2 separate regions of the Homo sapiens genome follow, and region 1 is linked to region 2. Evidence: fine-mapped expression QTL. A gene starts in region 2. The other region holds a variant in brackets. All regions are shown on one strand. Distances are from middle to middle. Region 1 overlaps GALNT14 (polypeptide N-acetylgalactosaminyltransferase 14). Region 2 holds the start of CAPN13 (calpain 13).

Evidence for each region.
Region 1: its variant is fine-mapped to the expression of CAPN13 in whole blood (TOPMed, PIP above 0.99).

Annotation. Positions count from the first base shown.
Region 1 is chr2:31,011,098-31,014,010 of GRCh38, reverse strand. The region is part of intron 1 of GALNT14 (polypeptide N-acetylgalactosaminyltransferase 14); the gene reads left to right. Among named protein-coding and RNA genes, the nearest start is that of GALNT14, 130 kb to the left of the region's middle. The variant A/C (reference allele first, on the strand shown) is at 1,296.
Region 2 is chr2:30,805,811-30,808,723 of GRCh38, reverse strand. CAPN13 (calpain 13) reads left to right here and starts at 1,278. Exons shown (of 23, transcript NM_144575.3): 1 at 1,278-1,422.

The DNA of each region.
Region 1 (2,913 bases), 210 kb before region 2:
AGGTTCATCTGTTTTCATTCCTTAAGTGCAGCTTTCATGAAATCTTACAGGGACAGAAACTTAAAGCCATTGTCTGCACAATCGTTATTTTTAGATTGTCAGAGTCTATAACACTTTTGTAGTGTTTCATGACCATTCCCATAGCTGTTTACTTTTAGTTTTGTAATTACATAGATTCAGTGCTCTACTGGTTCTTCTGCTCCATTCTTGGGTTTTTTATTTTGAACCACCTCTTCATTGACTGCATGTGGGAACAAAATTCATATATAAAGCAGAAATGGCATTAACAGAAAGAGCATGGGCCAGACAGACTGGGGTCCAAATTAGAAGTCTGCCATAGTGGATTCTAGTGGCTGCTTCAAAATGGGCTCATAGGTGCTGTCATCCCTGAGCTTGGATGTGGGAATATCACACTCCTGCTGTCCGTACTTGAACGGCACCTCAGCAGGTTAAAATGCTTCTGGTCACATTTGGACTCAGCCCCGTGGGTGTTGCTTCATTATCCGCTGACATGGAAAGCTGCCGCGGGGAAGTTTGAGGTCAGCTGAACATTTCCCCTTCTGTAGGTGACTTGTTGGTTCTGCCTGGGTGCTTGATGATTTCTTTCTTGCATTTGGAAGTTCGATACCTAAACCAGGAAACATCTTCGTGTCAATCCCTTTGTATCAATTTTTTATGGAATGTGGTGTGCAATTTTGATGTGCAGACTCAGATCTTTATTCATCTCAGGAGGTTTTTATTTAAAAAGATGAAGACTGTTTTGTGTGTTCCATCTGTTTCTCTGCTTCAGGTTCACCAGTTTTCTGATGTTGGATCACCTTTGCTCTTTCTATACATTTTATTCTCTCCTGTAGTTGCTTTAATAATTTAAATCTTTCTCCTCTGAGTCCCAGTGACTTGCCCAAGGTCCCACTGCTCAAGAGTGTCAGAGCCAGGACTGGAACCCTTTAGTTGGTATCAGTAATTAGATTTCCTGCTGTGCCTGCACTGCTTCTTGGAGTTTCAACATGTATTTATTGGTTCTGCAAAAGTGTTTTGTGGTTCTCAGTTTTATCATTCTTTATTCCATTGCTTTATTTAATCATCTAATCCTTTAGCTCTTATTTTATTAAATTCATGCTTTTAAGCTATTCCATAGCATGAAGCACGTTTGGGTAATTTCCTTCCATTTGTTTAGTTGTTTTTATTTAGACTGGGGTTTTTGTTTTGTGTGTGTGGGTGGTGTTGTTTTTGGATTTTTTTTCATACTGTGTTCCATTTTGTTGGTTTGTTTGGTTTTGGTTTTGGCCCCACCC[A/C]CACAGGGGCATGTTTGCATCATTGCCATGCAGTTCCTTTGCATCTTGCTTGACCTACACACCCTGATTCAGGGCAAGTTCATTCTTAACCCTTTTTTCACCATGTCTGAGCCTGTTCATTTCCTCCACAAGGCATAGTTTGAGGGCTGTGAGTTCTGTGTCTGTCCCCTTGTCTGTAGCCTGAGGGCCTTGGTGGAGTGAGGTGGGAAGGGAGAGCTGCACTGAGGCTGTGAGCAGTTTTTATTACCAACCTCTCAGAGAGAAAAGCCACACTCCTGCCTCCAGGACACACGCTGTTTTGTGGAAGAGACCCAATAAACAGGTAACTATAGGTGCTGCCATAAGAAGAGGGGACACTATTAGGTTGCAGGGACCAGATTTGCTTGCTTCCTTAAAGTCATGGTGGTGGCAGTTTAATGGAAGGATGCCAGTGTGTGGGAACCAGGGTTAAGCCAGACCAAAAGTCCAGGGCAGTACTTGCAGACCACGGCAAAGAACTTGGCCTTTATTCTGTGAGTGGGATCCAACCGTGTCTTAGAAGAGCCATTCCAGCAGCAGTGTGAAAAATTAAATACAGGTCTAAAGACATAAATCCCCAGCGCTTATCTGTTGGTCGGCTCTGCAAAGAGAATGAGGAGATATCTTCTGTACTGGAAACTGTCACCAAGGAGTAGAGAATTTCCTGAGCAGACTGGCGTTCCCCACCCTTCTTTGCCCCTGCCCGTTTCAAACACCTTCAGCTCCTGGGCATCAGCTGAAGAATGCCTAGCTTTTCCCCAGTGCTGTGGATCTCTGGAGATGTGTTTCCCGGCTGAGCGTTATGGCAGCCAGAGCCAGGCGGCACGTCCAGAGAACACATCTCAAGGTTGTTGTTTGAAGTACAAACAGAGCAGGGACCAATTATGGAGTCCCTCTGCACAGCATGCCTCCTGACTGTGCTCGGCATGGGGTGGGCAGAGGCTGGCAGAGCTGAGGAGCCAGCTTTGGCCCCCTGAGGGGTAGCTGGGAGGGAGAAGGGAGAGTATCATAGATTTATTTGCTGCCAGACAGGTCTGCCAGTGTGAGCTCATCTTTCAGAGAGGCGCCCTCTCCTCTTAACAGCCAGGTGCCTCCTGTGGCCCCAGGGTGGCACTGGATCCTAGATCCTGTGAGCAGAATTTTGCATCTATTTCTGGGGAAGAAAAGACCATGGCTTCTATTACACTGAAAAATAGGGCCCTGTCTCCTCAAATAGTTAAGGATGCCTCTGCTATGTAACCCCTATATTTTATAGGTGGGAAAAGTAACCAGAGACCCAGTGAGCAGAAATGGTTTACCCGAGGATTCAAGGTTGTGGAGGCCAGATCTAAAAGTCAGCTCTTACTGCCCCATGGACATACAACGTTGTCTTCACTTTGCTACCAAAGTGGTAGCTATTCTTTTTTGAGTGCTAAAAGTATGCCTGGCACAGAGCTTAGTGCTTTACTTATTTTAGTCCATTAGATCCGTAAAATGGCATCACAGTTTTGCAGAATAGACAGCCAGACAGCTAACTCTCAGTTGAGGGAGAGAGGTTAAGTCACTTCCCAAGGTCACAGAGACAGTAACTGGAGGAGAGATTGCAGACCCAGCTCTCGTG
Region 2 (2,913 bases):
TCAATAAGCAAGAAAACTCCCAATTAATTTTCTTGAGACACTGTCTTGTGATATATCCTTGTGGGTAGGGCTTTCTGAAGCATTTTCTCACCATTTTTTTCTGAAACTATGGCTTTCCAACATTTTTCATTGCATGCTCTATTAGTAAAATCATTTTGAACATGCACCACAGATATCTGCGTATTTATTCACTGATGATGTTTATGCAATAGTGTGTGTGTGTGTATTGTTTACTGTATTTATAGTGAAATTTCTAATAGAAGGTGTCCGCTGGGATGCAGGAATCCCACTAAACAAACACAAGGCAGACAGGGTAAGCATCATAATCCTCAGCTCACGGATTAATAGACTAAGATGGGAAGGGACTTGCCCAGGTCACACAGCCAAAAGTTGCAAAACTGGGGTTAAAACTCATATCCATACTTTCCAGCTTCTCAGATTCTTCATTCATGTGCCAAATATCCCTTTCTACTCATCAGAATTTGGGAATGGACCAGTCATAACAGTTTTTGGTGATTTCCACATTGTTTCCCTGTTTTACCTATTTTATCATTATTGCCTATAGCATAGGGTGTGCCATGCGATCAGGGTTCTGGAACTGGCTTCTAAAGAGCACTTATGAATGGGGATGAAGAACATCAAGGAATTAAAGATGCCAGAAAAGCAAATAGCCCCTTGGATTTGAGAACAGGAAACATGCACTTTACACGCCTCATCTCTTTCTGCCCCATCCAGCAAGCAGGGATGATGCAGAGACCTTCCCTGGGTCTCGCCATGCCCAGGAGTTAATGTGTTCTACAATGTATTTGTAGAAAGAAGATACTGCGTCTAGTAGAAAGAGATGTGATATGATTGACGTGGAGTGGCCACTCTTGATGCAGGAGACATGGCAATTGTACTTTCCTGTATGAGAATGAGGCCTGAAGGAAGGTTGCTTCCCTCAGTCTTTTCTCAGCAGAGGGGTTTTGTAAAACAAACCAAAACAAAACACAAATTCCCTGAAGCAGAATAAAGATAAAGAAACTTAAATATCTGGAAACAATGAAAACTGCAAGAGCCAAGAAACGGGCAGCTTAGGGGCCCCAGGAAGTGAGGTGGGATAAGGCAGAGATAGGCTTGGGGCGGAGAATCTGGAAGCTGTTGCTGTTTACATTCAATGTCCTCTCTCTCTCCAAGAGGTGGCAGGCCACTGCCCAATGCTGAAGTCACTGTTTAACGAAGGTGGAGCCTGCCTTTACCTGGTACACCCATATAAGGAAAAGCCTGAGGTCAGGAGTAAGCAGACACCAGCACTGCTCTTTCTCCAAGACGGCCGGCCATGCTCTCCTCCTCTGCCAGTCTCCTCCACCACTCTCTAACCTGAGAGCCTGTGGAACCTGCCCGTCTCCCCTCCTCCATCAGACACACCTGCCTAGGAAACAGGTAAGTTGTGCGTGGTCATGTCCCAGAGCTGTGGACCAAGGCAGTCCTCTAAACATTAGTGAGCATGTACAATTTTCTAGAGAGCTTCATGATGTCGCTTCTGAGTTCCCACCTCCCAAGGTACATATTCAGTAGCTCTGGAAGCTGGGTTTTTTTGATGCAGGTGGTCCAAGGATATGCTTTAAGAAAAACTAGGGCAAAGTGGGAGTTAATTTTCTAAGAGAATCTAATCCAAACTTTGCATATTTCATGCAAAGAGAGTATTTCTTAATCATTCTGTCACCTTCGATTTCTGATCATTCTAAGTTGTGACCTTGAGGGCTGTGTTCACCGTAAGGGACACATTGATGGCAGAAATCATGTCTTCTTTGTGCACTGATGTGTAGTTTCTGTTAGATAGTAGGTGCTTAATAAACATTTGCTAAAGGGAAGAATGGGACCTGGGCCCTTTGTTTTCTAATCATCTAGCTTATTAGTTATAGGAATGAAGTTGACAACTCTGGGTTAATCACAAAAGACAGATCATTACAACTTCAGAGATTCAGGAGGTTCCTATATGCCTCTAGTGGTGTCATGGTCACACACATGTGTCTCTGTAACTGCTAAAGTTATGTAATCTTTGAGATGTGATGCTGTTCTCAGGGAGACAGTTCCAGCTGCTCAGCTTGGACCCAAGTTAACCAGATTAGAATAAGTGCAGATATTTTCCCTCTATAGTTACAGTTGGGTCATGAACTACTGACTGTCCCATTTGTCCTGGGTCACAAACACAACTTTGGTTACCCCCGAGTGGCATTAACTAGACTTTCAATCAGATTATCCTCTTGAATTGTCTCACCTTTGTACCCACCTTGACATAAGTATTGTGGGTTTTTGTTGTTGTTGTTGTTGTTGTTGTTATTTTGAAGGTTGGAGGAGTGACAGCTGTAGGGAGGCTTACTTATTAGTAGATTGGTTGATGGAAATGTAATAATCTACCAACTGTGTAATAGGCAAAAGCTATATATAGCATGAGTTCATTATCCCATTTTGTAGATGGAAAAAGTGAGGGACCGGTGAGTGACTTGCTGCAAAAGTTTATACCAGATGCAAATGACAGAGCTGGAGTTCTGCTGTGCCTGGTAGGTACCCTGTCTTGTCCCCTAGTTATTTGGTTGTATTCAGTTACCCTCTTGAAAGAACACCTTAGAAGAAAAGATGCTATGAAGAAATGCACACATTAAGCCAAGCACTGTGGCTCACACCTGTAATCTCAACACTTTGGGAGGCCGAGGTGGACAGATTGCTTGATCCCAGGAGTTCAAGACCAGCCTGGGCAACATGGTGAAACCCTGTCTCTACAAAAATAAATTAAAAATTGGGGGTCTGGGAAAAAATATTAGCTACATGTGGTGGTGCACACCTGTAGTCCCAGCTATTGGAGGCAGGGGGAGGGGTCCATGGTTGAGGTGAAAGGATTGCTTGAGCCCAGGAGGTTGAGGCTTCAGTGAG